Regions from separate parts of the Homo sapiens genome. Here regions 2, 3 and 4 are each linked to region 1. Evidence: fine-mapped expression QTL. A gene starts in region 1. Each other region holds a variant in brackets. All regions are shown on one strand. Distances are from middle to middle. Region 1 holds the start of FXYD6 (FXYD domain containing ion transport regulator 6). Region 2 overlaps FXYD6-FXYD2 (FXYD6-FXYD2 readthrough). Region 3 overlaps FXYD6-FXYD2 (FXYD6-FXYD2 readthrough). Region 4 has its middle 13 kb from the start of FXYD2.

The links. PIP is the estimated chance that this variant, and not a neighbour inherited with it, causes the effect.
Region 2: its variant is fine-mapped to the expression of FXYD6 in whole blood (INTERVAL, PIP above 0.99). The same link has a PIP of 0.9 or more in blood mononuclear cells and monocytes.
Region 3: its variant is fine-mapped to the expression of FXYD6 in whole blood (TOPMed, PIP above 0.99).
Region 4: its variant is fine-mapped to the expression of FXYD6 in whole blood (INTERVAL, PIP 0.97).

Annotation. Positions count from the first base shown.
Region 1 is chr11:117,875,005-117,879,164 of GRCh38, forward strand. FXYD6 (FXYD domain containing ion transport regulator 6) reads right to left here and starts at 1,654. Exons shown (of 8, transcript NM_022003.4): 1 at 1,588-1,654. FXYD6-FXYD2 (FXYD6-FXYD2 readthrough) reads right to left here and starts at 1,654. Exons shown (of 10, transcript NM_001243598.4): 1 at 1,588-1,654.
Region 2 is chr11:117,834,131-117,838,290 of GRCh38, forward strand. The region is part of intron 6 of FXYD6-FXYD2 (FXYD6-FXYD2 readthrough); the gene reads right to left. FXYD6 (FXYD domain containing ion transport regulator 6) reads right to left here. Exons shown (of 8, transcript NM_022003.4): 8 at 2,851-4,147. FXYD6-AS1 (FXYD6 antisense RNA 1) reads left to right here. Exons shown (of 3, transcript NR_186291.1): 2 at 2,139-2,372; 3 at 3,038-4,160. Among named protein-coding and RNA genes, the nearest start is that of FXYD6-AS1, 2.5 kb to the left of the region's middle. The variant C/G (reference allele first, on the strand shown) is at 2,097.
Region 3 is chr11:117,840,655-117,844,814 of GRCh38, forward strand. It overlaps FXYD6-FXYD2 (FXYD6-FXYD2 readthrough), which reads right to left. Exons shown (of 10, transcript NM_001243598.4): 2 at 2,065-2,127; 3 at 1,336-1,374; 4 at 1,137-1,211. The coding sequence starts at 2,122. FXYD6 (FXYD domain containing ion transport regulator 6) reads right to left here. Exons shown (of 8, transcript NM_022003.4): 2 at 2,065-2,127; 3 at 1,336-1,374; 4 at 1,137-1,211; 5 at 494-530. The coding sequence starts at 2,122. Among named protein-coding and RNA genes, the nearest start is that of FXYD6-AS1, 9.0 kb to the left of the region's middle. RefSeq lists an enhancer at 1,058-2,257. The variant G/A (reference allele first, on the strand shown) is at 1,725.
Region 4 is chr11:117,809,972-117,814,131 of GRCh38, forward strand. It overlaps a transcript of DSCAML1 not described here. Among named protein-coding and RNA genes, the nearest start is that of FXYD2, 13 kb to the right of the region's middle. RefSeq lists an enhancer at 3,839-4,160. The variant A/G (reference allele first, on the strand shown) is at 2,249.

The DNA of each region.
Region 1 (4,160 bases):
TCTTCCCCTCCACACCCCTAGGGAGGTGGCTGGATAAGGAAGGAAACTGCCCTCTCTCTCCCCTGCCTCAGCCCAGCCTGAGACTTATTTAGATGTACTGTGTGTGTGTGTGTGCATGCACAGTGCGCATGTAGGGTGTCAGTGTAGCATTGTAGCTGGTGTGTGGTGGTGCGGTATATATGCGGTGTGTTTGGTGTGTATGTGTGTATAGGTATGATGTATATGTATGTGTGGTGTGAGTGTGAGGGTGTGTTGATTGCGTAGTGTGGTATATGTCTGTATGTGTTTGTGGTGTTGGTGATGTGCAGTGTGTGTGAAGTGGGTGGTGTGAGTAAGGGGCCACTGCAATTGGGTGTAGGAGCCAGATATCTAGGTCTCCTAGCCAGGGATAACCAGTATCTAGGCAACCATACTGGGGGGAGGGGAGGAGATATGGAGGTGAGGAATGGGCAGGAGAAAGAGGGAGGCTGAGAAATGGAGGAGTTTCCATGGCAACGACCAGGCAAGTCACGTGCAAAAGGCTAAGTTGCGGACGTAGACATACACATCCATAATATGAGGGTGGCTGGATCCCCAAAGGGGGCTCCTTTCAGAGAGGGCCTGAGATGCCCACTGATCCATCTTCAAAGCTGGAAATCTTAGCCCAGCCAGACAGCACGAAGCCACAGAGACAAAGGAAGTAGTGGCAGAGAGCACACTGGTGGGGAGAAGCCTCCAGTAGCCACGGTCCCGCGAGCGTGCAGGCTTGCAGCAGGTGACGCGGCAGACCCATGTTTCCAGCGAGGCTGCTCCCAGCTCCCACCCTCGGGTGCCTCCTCTACCAGCCACCACTTGTAAGAGCCAGAAGCCAGCGCTGGGAGCTCCAGGCTGCACACCCAACTCTCCACGGAAGCCCGGGAGACACAATAGGGGAGGCTCTGCCAGGGCCAGCCCTGCTGGGGAAAGGGGGCAATGGCGGACCCCAGGGCCCCCCGGAAAGGAAACAGGATTGGATGGATAAGACAAGAAGGAGGGAAAAAATGATGCACTCTCATGAATCCCCGAGCGCTAGAATCCTTCTTTCCCTGCGCCCCCATCCTGTGCCCACTGCCCAGCCCCACCTTCCCCAAGCACCAAACCAGCAAGTTCCATTTTGTGTCGCTCATAAGTCCACACTCACACCCAGCCACACGCCCTCGTCCGTAATTCCCCACGCTCCACCAAGTGTCCACAGCTTCCAAGTAACAAAGGGAAAACTCCTCATGGATAAAGGGTGGGCGCAGCCCTTTCCCCTTCTCCTGAAAACCCTGACCCCAAGCTCAAGGCAGCACCGAGAGCAATTCCCAGCCACCAGCGTCACCCCCAGCGCCACAGCCTGCCTCCCCTAGAGGCTCCTCTCTCTTCCGACGCCGATCTCCTTGTTTACATCCCCAGCCCGGTTTCCCGCTGCCCAGGCGGGGACCGCGGCGCAGCTGACCGCGGAGGACCGCACACACCCACTGAACACACAAAACCCGGCGCTCCCGGCGCTCCAGAGATCGGTCCCCACCGAGCCTCGCCCCTCCTCGGAAAAAGGAGCCAACTTTGCCCACCTCCCCAGCCGCCTACCTGCACAGCCGGTCCCCTCCGAGACTCCCAGGAGGACCCGCCGAGTCCCGAGGAGCCTGGGAGTGGCGGGGCTGGGGGCAGGGCGGTGGGTGAGGCTTGAGCTGCTTTCCCGCCTCCCCTCCTCCTAGGAGTCGGGCTGGCTGGGAGGCGCGTCCTGCGGGGGCGGGGGGGGGGCTCGCTCGGGGCTGGGCTCGGGGACAGCCCACTCCGTGCTGCCGTCCGCTGGCTTCTGGGTAGCGGCCGCGCGCAGACCCCCTCTCCTCCTCTCCCTGTCCGTCCTCCCGCTCTGTGCTCGCGCGCGTCCTCTGCTCCTCTCTCCTCTCGAGGGGCGGAGAGATTTTTCCAAAGGGCAGTCAAGCTCCGAGAAGCAACAGGAGACTGCCGCCGAGGAGGCGTGCAAGCGCCGGAGCGGATTTGCCATCAGCTGTTGCTTTTCGGTTTCCCTCTGGTTAGGGTGGGAAGGGAGCAAGACAGGCACAATGACAGACCTGGTGTCTCTCTGCAATAGTAAACCCCGAGGAACGGAAAAATAGGAGAAAATAACCCAGCACCAGACACAGCAGCCCACGTTAATTGGGAGCCTTGGTAATTAAGGGGAATGTGCACCAAAAGCATGAATGGCTGTGTCGTGGGCGCAGGAGCCAGCTCCAGTTGTAGTTGTCATTTTCAGCTAGAGCCAGGTGGGGAGCTGGGGGGATGGTCCTTACCTGAACCATAGATCTGCTGCCTTGAACCCCCTTTTCAAGCCCCATCCACCTCTGGCCCTGCCAGGAGCAGTACCACCCCGTCCTCAGCCCAGTCCCCAAGAGTCAAAATTCATGATGACGAACTTTGAATGTGAAGATGTAAATAAATCCTGGCTCGGCAACCCTGCCTGTGACGCGACTTGGAGCATATCTCTGCACTCAGCTCCTGAGTCTATTTCCTCACGTGGGAAAATGGTGATTAGAGACTGACCCCATGGGAGGCTTAGCTCATAGTGAGTGCTCAAGAAATTGGCTCTTACTATTAGGGGCAGAGCTTGTAGGAAGGGGCAGAGGCCAGGCACAAGTGTCAGTAGCCAGGAGCCATGCTGAGATGGAGGCTGTCCAGCCTCAGTCAAGGTGTGTGTATGGCCGAGCCGGGTGGAGGGAGGAGCTACTGAGAAAGGCTGTGATTGTCCAAGCCTAGGTAGGGCCACGGAGAGTTCCTTACAAACCCCAAGCCGGGGATGATGGGTACTGCTAGGAAGAAACCTAGCCCTGCCTCTGCTGCCCTCAGTTCTGGGCCTGTTTTCTCATTTGGGAAAATAGGGAGATGGACTAGATGATCCTGAGGTCTCTTCCAGCTCTGCCCTAGATGATCTAATTATTTTAATAAAAGGTCAGGTCTCAAAACCCCAAGGCAGGAAATATACATGAACTCAAGAAGACTTTGGAACCAGTAGGGGAACCATAAATAGCTACTGAGAAAGAGCACCCAAAAAGCCTCCCCTCAGGGGATAGTTCTGGCCCCTTAATCATGGGACCTGGCTGAATGGATGCCACTCTGGCCCAGTCCTGAACTCCCTGGGGTTCCTGTGAATGCTAAAGCTCCTTCTCCAAAGCCAGACTCAAATCTTGCCTATTTGCGTGCCTAACCCTTTGCCGTTCCTGTCTTTTCCTCTATAAACTGAGGACAGCATTCCAACTGTCGTTTTCCCTTTTCATGTATTCTAGGTGGCAGATTTAAAACCACATCCCTTTCTAGGCCCATGTCCTTAGGCAGGTACATTCATCCCTCCAAATGCCCTTGAATCCTGCCTTTTGGCCATCTCTCTGTGCTTTTTAGAGCACCTACTAGTGATGACACGTCAAGCCCAGGCTTTGCAAGCCTATTTGGGAAAGGATAGTTCAGAACTCCAAAGCCAAGCCACCTTCTGGTTCAACCCCATTTCCAGCCAGAGAGTTCTGAAGTGTTTGGCCCAGTGACTTCCCAGGTCCCCCTACCTAATGCTGACCAGCCCAGGCTGCAGAGGGATAACAGGAACTAAATGTGCATGAGAAACCGCCATGGCTTAACTCTCAAATAGTGCTTCATCACGTTCCATCCAAGGGTACTGCTGGAAGAATTTGGGGTGTTACAGCTACAAAGCAGCACGCAAGCTTGTTCTGGGGTGAGTCACATCTCCCTTCTAGCAGGAAAATAAACACATCTACCCCCTGTGAAAAATGTGGGCATTCATAAAAAGAGGTCGCCAGCTGTTCCATTCTTTCAACCACGTATGGACAGGAGGAGCTACTCTTCACTGAGACCTGGGCCAAGATCTGAGGATATACTGTGGAGAGGAAAGATGTGGTCCCTGGGTGAGATAGAGATTTAGCAAATGTTCCCATGAATAAACGTGTAATTAAAACACAGTTCAGAGCCCTGAAGATATAGCATTTGAGAAAGGTCAGGAGATGTTAAGAAGATGAGGTAAAGGAGCCAAGAATTGGGATGTCAGGGTGGGAAGATGATTCTGCCTCTGGAACAGAAGCAGTATGTGCAAAGGCCCTGAGGCAGAAGGGGCATGGTGTGAAAGGAGCCAGGGTGGGACTGGCCCAACAATTCCT
Region 2 (4,160 bases), 41 kb before region 1:
AGTCACTGGGAGGCAAAAGGTGTGGGACACCTGAGGTTACTGAGACAGGGAACTTGGGATTCCCTTCTGGGAAATGACACAGCATGGCAGCTGTCCTTCTTATTCAGTCAAGCTACATTGCCTCATTAAACCAAATCACAGCTACAAACCAGTGCCACATGCCTGGAGGCTGAGTGGACACTCCTGGTCCTCCTCATGGAGATATATAGCACTCTGAGTTCTGATCCAGCTCATCTGTGTGAAGTCCTCAAACAAGCACATAGTAAGTGCTCCATAAACTTCAGCTGCTCATTTTTTTTAATTATTACCATTTTGACCATCATTTCTTCGATTGTTCTTCATGTGTCTTGTTTCCAGACCATTAGACTCCCACAGGAGGCTCCTTGGAGCATGGTCCAGCTAGTTTATGTCTTGAAGGGGCAGCCATGCTCCAGGTGCAGTCTTGGGAGCCATCTGATCACTGTCCCTTCTTCTGAGCATCTGCCTGCTGAAGGAGGCTAGGCCATGTGCTGACAAGCACTATGGACAGACAGCCCGGGGTCAAGTCCTAGCTCCTCCATCCCCCAGCTGTGTAACCTGGACCAGGACGATTGTATCTCTGACCAATCTCAGAATATAGCTGGATTACTAGGAGGAAAACTAAGTGAGTGCTTAGAGGCGGGCAAAGTAAGGATAACCATTTGTAGATGATGTGCTAGAGATGCTGACCATCATTCCTTACTCTTAACATAATTATTATGAGAAAAATTAGAACCTCCTCATTGGACTTCCTTATTCCTATGTCGAAGTATAATGTTCTGTTTTTACTAACGTATGGGGGGCGGCACACACAAAGCTTTGCATGTCTAGGGCCTCTAGGGATCTCAGCCTGGCCTCGCTATGAAATTTCTGCAAGGCCTGTCAATTCCCTGATGTATCACGAGTGTTCCCGAACAATAAGCTCATTTACCAGGTCTTGCTGTGACCAGATAGTTTTTAATCGCCATGATCACTGGGTTGACAGGTTGAGCTTGAGCTCTACCATAAGCCTGTGTCTTTCCAAAGGCCTGGGGGACCGAAGGCAGAAGCAAGAGCACACGTAGAGAAGGCACCGAGCAAGCGGATCTGTGCGGTTCTTCGGTTCTAAACAACTTGCGGAATCCAGGCGGACTCAGGGCCTGTGTGGCCACTGGGCAGGGAAGGTGGTGGTTCCCAGGCCCATCGAAACCACAAGGAGCACTGACTTCTGTCTCCTGCTATAGCTTCAGGTGCCAGGTTCACTGGGGTCTTAGAAGTTGGGGCTGGAAGGAGGTGGGCCCAGAGGGTCCCGCTCCTTAAGTGCTGGCTTCAAGATGGAAGATATTAAGACGTTCCAGGGGTCGATTCTTTTTTCAAGACCCTAAGATGTTCCAGGCTTCTGTAGAGCAGGCACAGTCCTTGCCCTCCAGGAATTGTATCAATAAAGACACAAAACACTAGAGGCAGAAGCTGCACACAGGCAACCTCCACGCAGAATCTGCCCACATCTGTGTTGGTTTGGCCAACAGTGGTTTTTAGAAAGTTGAGTCAGAGTGTCTTTGGGAGGACACCGTAGGTGACTGCAGGTGCCATGCCCCATCGTCACTCCAGCAGATTCACATATTGGCATTACCTGCCTGGTCTCTACAGTCTGGATGCCAAGTATGAAGTGTGAATATAAAGGCAGCAAACAAGTGTGATTGGGGCACAAGAAAGGGATTCGGCTGGGCGCTGTGGCTCACGCCTCTAATCCCAACAATTTGGGAGGCTGAGGCAGGCAGATCACTTGAGGCCAAAAGTTCGAGACCAGCTTGGACAACATGAAGAAATCCCGTCTCTACTAAAAATATAAAAATTAGCCGGGTATGGTGGAAGGCACCTGTAATCTCAGCTGCTCAGGAGGCTGAGGCAGGAGAATCGCTTGAACTCAGAAGGCAGAGGTTGCAGTGGGCCAAGATAACGCCACTGCACTCCAGCCTGGGCGACAAGAGCAAAACTCCATCTCAAAAAAAAAAAAAAAAAAAAAAAGGGATTCGATTCTACCTAATGCCCAGGGAGGCTCCACAGAGGAGGGGTATTTCACAATCCACGTCACCCAC[C/G]CTGTCACTCCCTTGATCCCTTCCTTCCTTTTTTCTTTTTAGAGACAAGGTCTCATTCTGTTGCCCAGGCTGGAGTGCAGTGGTGCAATCACGGTTCACTGCAACCTGGAACTCCAGGGTTCAAGCAATCCTCCTGCCTCAGCCTGCCGAGTAGCTGTGACAACAGGTGCGAGCCACCATGCCCAGCTAAGATTTCACCATGTTGCCCAGCTGGTCTTGAACTCCTGGCCTCAAGCAATTCTCCTGCTTTAGGCTCCCAAGTTGCTGGAATTACAGGTATGAGTCACCACCCCTGGCTCTCTTTACAAGTCCTTAGGTAGTGGCCCCAGAACTGACCAAAGAGAAATGTTAGGATGTTTTACTCCAGGCCACTGAGTACTTGGAGAAGCCATTGTGACTCCCTTTTTTGCTCCAAGACAGTGTGCAATGTACAGGTCCTGCTATGGGATGTGGCTTGAGCCCAGTGGCCTGGGAAGGCGGGAGAGAGGGAGGGAGGAATAGAAATGGCGGGAAGGTGCGGGACGAAGGGCTGAGCAGGAGGAGAGGAAAGTGAAGGAAGAAAAGGAAAGGAGGGAAGAGAAGCGGGGAGGAGGCAACAGTGACAGCAGCTGACGGGGCTCTGTGCCTGCCTGGGTGGCTATCCAGTCCTTCCTCTTCCCTCTGACCATGGACGGACTCCCTCTAGCCCTTTAAGTTCCACAGACCCTACAAACACTCAAGTTCTTTCACAGAAAGGAAAGCACCTCCGAGCCACTAGGAAACAAAGGATATTTTATTCCTTTTTTCTGTTGTTGTTGAGGATAGATCACGATACAGAGAACAGCAATGGGTCACAGCGCACGGTTTGGTTGGTTTCCGCGGGAACACAGAGGACAGGAGGGGCGGGATCTGGGTTGAGTTCCCACTCTCGTTATGACCTTCAACCTCTCACTGTTCCCAAGGGCTGCACGGAGCCTGCTGAGTCTCCAACCCACCTCGCTCACCGCTCTGACCACTGACAGGCAGAGCAAAGGATGCGGGAGTTGCCTCTGCTGCCCATCTAAGGGGACGTAGGCAGAGAAGCAAAGGCCTCTGCTCTCCCTCCATCCATCCCGGTGTGCTGGCCCCAACGGAACAGGAGTCCTTCAACTATTGCCTGCCAGAGACCCAATTGCAGGGACTGTAGTCTGCATCTGGATGAGCTGGGCTGTAGATTGAAGTCTCAGAAGCAGGGAAGGTTGGAAGGGGTAGGGTCCCAGAGCCCATGGAGTTATTGCTGAGAAGATATGCAGGGGACACATTCCCCAGGGGCAGAGTAGAAGCCCTGGGCCTGGAATCCCCGGGCGCTCTGTGAAGGGGCGGGGCAGATGGGGACTCCTCGTGGAAGCCCCTGGGAAGAAATTAACCACGGAAGGGCATAGCCTGCCTGACGTCAACGCTGGGCTCACCAGCTCCTTGCTTTGTATCTCCAGTTGCTAAGAGACCTTCAGACTGGGATCAGGTGGGATAAGGAAGCAAGGTTTTTGTTAAAGGAGTGAAAGGAGTCCATGAAGAATGATGACAAAGTGCTGCAAACCTTCCCAGGTCCCAAGACGACTGAAGACCACTGCCCGTGCTCTTACCCTACGCATCCCTAAATCAGGGGAGGGGGCTGGTCTCGGGCAACAAGCAGCCTCCTAGGAGCAGAAGGTGATGGAGGGCCACGGGGGCAGGGAGGAGCAGATGGCCATGTGGCTCAGCCCCTGCCTGGGAAAGCGAGTCCACAGTTCACTAACAAACACAATACCATCCACAAACAAGTAGCCACAAAGACCACAGTTAGCAAACACACACAGTCACACACACACACACACACACACACATCACGGGAGGTGGGCAGGACCGCAGGCTGCAGTGGGGAGGCAAGTGTTAGTTGCATCATCAGGTGGAGGAATGGTGTTAGAGGGGATAGGGTGGGGGACACACAAGTTCTTGGCTTCTCCTGGGGAAAGGGCTGTTGCTGAAGTGGCCGGTTTTCTTAAGCATCGACATTTGCATCCAAAGGTTCAAGCAGCCGCCTCAGGTTCCAGAGGCTGAGGAGGAGGA
Region 3 (4,160 bases), 34 kb before region 1:
TTCTGGGGTCCAAGCTACCCTTGGCTATTATAGTAAACTAATGGGGTATGACCTCTATGTGGGAGTAGAAAGAAGGTCCAAGTGTCTATTCAGCTCAAAGAGCCTCATGAACAGGTGACAAGTGGGGACTGTGTCGCAGGTCCTGTAGAGAGGACCTGGGCATCTAGAGAGGCCAGGAAGCCCTCTGCTTCCCTTCTCCCAAGCTCAACTGTCCCAAGGGCCTCCAGAAAAGGTTCCAGTACTTTCTTGTCCACTCCCCGTCCCCCACATAGATCAGAAGAGACAGGATGGGCTGACCTTCAATGTTTTGACCTCTCCTTTGCCCCAGAGTCTACCTGGCAGTCCTCAAACTTCCAGCCCTACGTCCCAACACACACGTTCTGCCTCCGAGACAAGAATCCAAGAGAATGCCCATTTGGGGGTCACACACCAGGGGTCCCTTCCTGTCCCACCTAGTATCACCCCCCCAAGGCCACTGCCACGGCATCCTTACCGGGGCTTCTGATTGAAACTGCACTTGCACCTGCGACCTGAAAAGCAAAGAAACCATCCAAGGTCATGCTGCTGGCTTGGCCACAGCAGGGCCAAGGGTCTGTGCAGGTTGTGGGACTATGTAAATGGCACCCCCTAGACCTGGGCAGTGCACAGTTTGCACAGCTGCACACAGTGGCCCTCGGATGGGGTAGCTTCTTCTGGGGCAAAGGAAATACATTCTATAGCTGGAATGGCTACACCCCCACAGCCCTCTTGATCATGTGAGTAAAGAGGGATCTGTGCAGATCAGGCTCATGTGGGAACAACAAACTCGGAGGCACATCCCTCGCACACTAGGGCAGCACCTGTCTCCTTCCTCCGTGACTGCCCCATTCATGCCCTATAGACACAGCACTGGGAAGCCACCCTGCTCGTTCCTATCTATGCTCATTGTCATATGACATTTTCTTTGTTCCCGTGTCACTGTTTTACTGAGCACTTACTATGTGCCCAGCACTCTACTGGGTCGTGAAGATAACACGGAGGGCAGGCAGCCTCCTTTCCTCTCCAGGAGAGGGACCAACCAGGCTCTCACACTGTCCCCACCTGCTTAGCAGCCTCAGTCATTGCTCTTAACAGAGTGAGCAAAAGAACAAACTTACTTAGGATAAGGAGGATCCCAACCGAGAAGAGGACCACAGCGAACACCAGTCCCCCAATCCTCAGGGTCTGGTAATCTGCCAAAGGAACCAAGGGTGAGAGAGGAAGGGGCCAGGGAGAGGGTGTCTGTTCCCCCTACCCCTCCTGCCAGGCAGGGCTGCATTCCCCCTGACCCCTGCACCCAGGGTTGCCATCGCTCACCATAATGAAAAGGGTCCATTTCCTTCTCCTTTTCAGCTGCTGCAAAAACAAACAGTTGGTCAAGAGAAAGAAAGCTACACAAACTGGTTCCCAAATATCTAACCTTGCCTCACAGACCTCAGTCTCCACAAAGGAATTCCAGAGGAGCAGGGCCCATTAAACAGAGATGCCTAGAGGTGCACGGTAGGGCGGGCCTGCCAGTTAGGGGGTTAGGGGAACCCTAAGGGCCGAGGTCAGTGAAGGCATCGAAACTCAGTGAGGCTCTGAGTCATGCAACACCCACATTCATTGCCCCTTTGTATTCTTACATCATCCCCAGAAGGCAGGGTCAGTTTTCCTCTTGTGACACACGGAGAAACCGAGACCAAGGAAGGACATATGACTTGCAC[G/A]AGGCCAGCACTTGCTAATATGGTCTAGAGACTGATGTGCAGGTCTGAATCCCAGGGTTCAGGCCACAAATCCACAGAGGCGCAGTGAGCTTGCGGGGCTTAAAAACTACTCCCTGCCGGACCCTTAGGGGGCGAGGGGGCAGGCTGTGCTGAGGTCTGTGAATAAATAGCTGCCACCTCCACGACTTTCTCTGCTGACTGAAGGGAGAGGCCCCTGACTAGACATGAAGAACGTGAGAGTCCCCCAGCCCTAATGTCCCAAGGGGCCCAGAACCTTCCAGCAGAGAGGGCTGGACAGGGTTGTCATCTTGTCACAGCCAGGTCCCAGAGGGGTACTTACCACTGGCCAGGACCATGGGGGCCAGCAGGCTGCAGAGGAAGACCAGCACCAACTCCATGGCGTCTGGGGACAGAGGGAGGAAAAAATGATTCTCTGGCTAAGAAGCCTCCATCCGTCAGCTCCAAGCGTCAGCCTGACCAGGGGCCAAGCCAAATCCCCAGCTTTGCTCTGCACTCATGACTTGGTGAGGGTTCAAACAACCTAAGCACAAGCAGTTGACTTTTTTTTTTTTTGAGACAGAGTCTCGCTATCTTGCCCAGGCTAGAGCGTAGTGGCATGATCTCGGCTCACTGCAACCTCCGCCTCCCAGGTTCAAGTGATTCTTCTGCCTCAGCCTCCTGAGTAGCTGGCATTAGAGGCGTGTGCCATCATGCCCGGCTAATTTTTTGTATTTTTAGTAGAGACAGGGTTTCATCATGTTGGCCAGGCTGGTCTCGAACTCTTGACCTCAAGTGGTCCATCTGCCTCAGCCTCCCAAAGGGCTGGGATTATAGGCGTGAGCCACCACCAGTTGACATTTCTTGGACTCTTAGAGAATGCTCTGCATGTATTAATTCAATTGGCACAATTGAGTTAGTACAATTAGCAAGCACTACAACTAACGCAGGCCGAGAACCTGAAGCTTAATGAGGCTGACATGCACCAGAGTGAGTAGCAGGGCCTAGATCCTAACCCAGCATGGTAACTCCTCCACCACGTTGCCTCTGGGACGTGACTTTGAAGATCTCAACTGTGTCCTTCTCTCCAGGCCACCCTTCTGTGGCCATCCCTAGTTCATTCTGACAGCCAATACCCCATCAGAAATGTCTCTTAATATCAGACTAAATGGGGCCAGTAAACCAGTGTCCCTCTAGTCTAGCCAGCTGGGTGGAGAGGAGACTTGTGGTTTCCTGGGCCCTGAAGCGCTGACAGCCCTCCTTCAGGTACCCTTTACGTCCCACCTCAAAAGTCCCCAAGTCAGCTCTTCCCACAGGCTTTGGTTCAGAATCCTCCAGAAAGGTGGTTTGATTCTACAAAAGGAGTTTGAAGGCTGGTTCCACGAGCCTCAGCACCCCAGCCTCTGCTTCCCCAGAGGATGCGGAGGTCTCTGCTCAGGAGCTCATCAGTCCTGGTCTCTGGGTGGATGGCCCCAGGTGGGCTATCCTGGTGGAAGCAGGAGGCAGGGCCAAGAGGTGGCACCCAGGGATAGATTTCAATGGCAGGACACACATCTCACTCCTGGGCTTAAAGGAGCATGGTTAAGAGCCAGAGAGGAGACAGAGAGGCTTTTCCTGAACCAGGAAAGCCCAAGGCTGGGTGCTGTTTTCCATGTGGGGTGAAACTGGCAGTGGCCTGAACCCCTGGACATCCGTCCAGTCCAAGACCCTGATTGCCCCCAGCACGGTCACTACCTTCCTCCGGCCTTGAGCAAGCAGCCGCCACTGCACTTCACCTCTCGGCCACCAGGGGTCAGAACGACTGCATCCACAGCCACGTCAAGGCCCAAACCTTGATTCAAAAAGCCTTTATCAAAAGGTGGTAATTTGCTTTCAATGCTGTCTCATTTCACACTTGTATTTCCTTTGAATGCTACACTGTATCTTATATGTATAAAAATATATGTAACATACACATATAATGAGGCATAGTAATAATAGAAACACCCATAAACCAGCAGCTTAGGAAATGGAGCTTTACAAAGACTGCTGCAGTGACCTCTATTTCCCTCCACCCCATCCCCCTGCCTCTCTCCCAGAGGTGGCCAGTATCCCAAAAATATATATTTTTATTTTTATTTATTTATTTATTTATTTTGAGACTGAGTCTCCCTGTGTCGCCCAGGCTAGAATGCAATGGTGCGATCTCGGCTCACTGCAACTTCCACCTCCCGGGTTCAAACGATTCTCCTGCTTCTGCCTCCCAAGGAGTTTGGATTACAGGCATGCACCACCACACCCAGCTAATTTTTTGTATTTTTAGTAGAGACAGGGTTTCACCATGTTGGTCAGGCTCAAACTTCTGACCTCAGGTGATCCACCCACCTCGGCCTCCCAGAGCGCTGGAATTACAGGCGTGAGCCACCGCGCCTGGCTGAAAATACATATTTTTAATCATTC
Region 4 (4,160 bases), 65 kb before region 1:
CACACACTCATACACACATTCACATACACACATTCCCACACTCACACATATTCAAATATTTTCACACACATTCACACTCACACACATTCACACACTCACTTACACATTCGCACACACATACACACATTCACATACATACATATTCACATTTCAATCTTGGCGCCACACTTCAATCTCTCCCTTCTCTTAATTTCAATTCCTTTCATTTTCTGATAGAGACAAAGGAGACACGTGGACCCAAAACTCCGTGGACCCAAACTCCGTGGACCCAAAACTCCGTGGACTCAAAACTCCAGCGCCCTCTGGGGGAGGGGCAAGTACCCCTCAACCCCTTCTCCTTCACCCTTAGTGGCAAGTCCCGCTTTTCTAGGGGGCAAGAACCCCCAATCCCTTATTTCCGCACCCCGACCTCTTATCTCTGTGTCCCAATCCCTTATTTCCGCACCCCGACCTCTTATCTCTGTGCCCCAATCCCTTATTTCCGTGCCCCAACCCTTTCTCTGCTTTTCTGGAGGGCAAGAAACCCCCACCCCCTTCTCCGTATCTCTACTCTTTTCTCTAGGCTTGCCTCCTTCACTATGGGCAAGCTTCCACCTTCCATTCCTCCTTCTTCTCCCTTAGCCTGTATCCTTAAGAACTTAAAACCTCTTCAACTCTCACCTGACCTAAAATCAAAGTGTCTTATTTTCTTCTGCAATGCCGCTTGACCCCAATACAAACTCGACAGTAGTTCCAAATAGCCGGAAAACAGCTCTTTCAATTTTTCCATCCTACAAGAGCTAAATAATTCTTGTCGTAAAATGGGCAAATGATCTGAGGTGCCTGACGTCCACGCATTCTTTTACACATCAGTCCCTTCCTAGTCTCTGTGCCCAGTGCAACTCGTCCCAAATCTTCCTTCTTTCCCTCCCGCCTGTCCCCTCAGTCCCAACCCCAAGCGTCGCTGAGTCTTTCTAATCTTCCTTTTCTACAGACCCATCTGACCTCTCCCCTCCTCGCCAGACCAAGCTAGGTCCCATTTCTTCCTCAGCCTCCGCTCCTCCACCCTGTAATCTTTTTATCGCCTCTCCTCCTCACACCCGGTCTGACTTACAGTTTCGTTCTGTGACTAGCCCTCCCCCACCTGCCCAGCAATTTACTCTTAAAAAGGTGGCTGGAGCTAAAGGCATAGTCAAGGTTAATGCTCCTTTTTCTTTATCCCAAATCAGATAGCGTTTAGGCTCTTTTTCATCAAATATAAAACCCCAGCCGAGTTCATGGCTCGTTCGGCAGCAACCCTGAGAAGCTTTACAGCCCTAGACCCTAAAAGGTCAAAAGGCCATCTTATTCTCAATATACATTTTATTACCCAATCTGCTCCCGACATTAAATAAAACTCCAAAAATTAGAATCTGGCCCTCAAACCCCACAACAGGACTTAATTAACCTCACCTTCAAGGTGTACAATAATAAAAAAAGTTGCAATTCCTTACCTCCACTGTGAGACAAACCCCAGCTACATCTCCAGCACACAAGAACTTCCAAACGCCTGAACTGCAGCGGCCAGGCGTTCCTCCAGAACCTCCTCCCCCAGGAGCTTACTACAAGTGCTAGAAATCTGGACACCAGGCCAAGGAATGCCTGCAGCCCAGGATTCCTCCTAAGCCGTGTCCCATCTGCGCGGGACCCCACTGGAAATCGGACTGTTCAACTCACCTGGCAGCCACTCCCAGAGCCCCTGGAACTCTGGCCCAAGGCTCCCTGACTGACTCCTTCTCGGCTTAGCAGCTGAAGACTGAGGCTGCCTGATTGCCTTGGAAGCCCCGTAGACCATCGCGGATGCCGAGCTTTAAGTAACTCTCACAGTGGAGTGTAAGTCCATCCCCTTCTTAATCAATACGGAGGCTACCCACTCCACATTACCTTCTTTTCAAAGGCCTGTTTCCCTTGCCTCCATAACTGCTGTGCGTATTGACAGCCAGACTTCTAAACCTCTTAAAACTCCCCAACTCTGGTGCCAACTTAGACAACACTCTTTTATGCACTCTTTTTTAGTTATCTCCACCTGCCCAGTTCCCTTATTAGGCCGAGATATTTTAACCAAATTATCTGCTTCCCTGACTATTCCTGGATTACAGCTGCATCTCATTGCTGCCCTTCTTCCCAATCCAAAGCCTCCTTTGCGTCCTCCTCTTGTATTCCCCCACCTTAACCCACAAGAGACCTCTACTCCCTCCTTGGCGACCAATCATGCACCCCTTACCATCTC[A/G]TTAAAACCTAATCACCCTTACCCCACTCAATGCCAATATCCCATCCCACAGCAAGCTTTGAAAGGATTAATGCCTGTTATCACTCGCCTGCTACAGCATGGCCTTTTAAAGCCTATAAACTCTCCTTACAATTCCCCCATTTTACCTGTCCTAAAACCAGACAAGCCTTACAAGTTAGTTCAGGATCTATGCCTTATCAACCAAATTGTTTTGCCTATCCACCCCATGGTGCCAAACCCATATACTCTCCTATCCGCAATACCTCCCTCCACAATCCATTATTCTGTTCTGGATCTCAAACGTGCTTTCTTTACTATTCCTTTGCACCCGTCATCCCAGCCTCTCTTCGCTTCACTTGGACTGACCCTGACACCCATCAGGCTCAGCAAATTACCTGGGCTGTACTGCCACAAGGCTTCACAGACAGCCCCCATTACTTCAGTCAAGCCCAAATTTCATCCTCATCTGTTACCTATCTCGGCATAATTCTCGTAAAAACACACGTGCTCTTCCTGCTGATCGTGTCCGACTAATCTCCCAAACCTCAATCCTTTACAAAACAACAACTCCTTTCCTTCCTAGGCATGGTTAGTGCAGTCAAAATTCTTACACAAGAGCCAGGACCGCACACTGTAGCCTTTCTGTGCAAACAACTTGACCTTACTGTTTTAGCCTAGCCCTCATGTCTGCGTGCAGCGGCTGCCACTGCTTTAATACTTTTAGAGGCCTTTCCTACAAGGTCTGAGAAGGCCACCACAGTCATTTCTTCCCTTCTGTCAGACATAATTCCTCAGTTTAGCCTTCCCACCTCTATACAGTCTGATAACAGACCAGCCTTTATTAGTCAAATCAGCCAAGCATTTTTTCAGGCTCTTAGTATTCAGTGACAGACTAATGGTCTATTAAAAACACACCTCACCAAGCTCAGCCACCAACTTAAAAAGGACTGGACAATACTTTTACCACTTTCCCTTCTCAGAAGTCAGACATGTCCTCAGAATGCTACAAGGTACAGCCCATTTAACCTCCTGTATAGATGCTCCTTTTTATTAGGCCCCAGTCTCATTCCAGACACCAGACCAACTTCGACTGTGCCCCAAAAAACTTGTCATCCCTACTATCTTCTGTCTAGTCATACTCCTATTCACCGTTCTCAACTACTCATACATGCCCTGCTCTTGTTTACACTGCCGGTTTATACTGTTTCTCCAAGCCATCACAGCTGATATCTCCTCGTGCTATCTCCAAATTGCCACTCTTAACTCTTGAAGTAAATAAATAATCTTTGCTGGCAGGACTATGCTGAATCTCCATAGGCACTCTCTAATTAAATGTCCTAGGTCCTCCCAATTCTTAGACCTTTTATACCTGTTTTTCTCCTTCTCTTATTCCATTTAGTTTTTCAATTCATACAAAACCGTATCCAGGCCATCACCAATCATTCTACATGACAAATGTTTCTTCTAACAACCCCACAATATCACCCCTTACCACAAGACCTCCCTTCAGCTTAATCTCTCCCACTCTAGGTTCCCACGCCACCCCTAATCCCGCTTGAAGCAGCCCGGAGAAACATCGTCCATTCTGTCTCCATACCACTCCCCCAAAATTTTCACCGCCCCAACACTTCAACACTATTTTGTTTTATTTTTCTTATTAATATATGAAGGCAGGAATGTCAGGCCTCTGAGCCCAAGCCAAGCCATCGCATCCCCTGTGACTTGCACCTATACGCCCAGATGGCTTGAAGTAACTGAAGAATCACAAAAGAAGTGAAAAGGCCCTGCCCCGCCTTAACTGATGACATTCCACCATTGTGATTTGTTTCTGCCCCACCTTAACTGAGTGATTAACCCTGTGAATTTCCTTCTCCTGGCTCAGAAGCTCCCCCACTGAGCACCTTGTGACCCC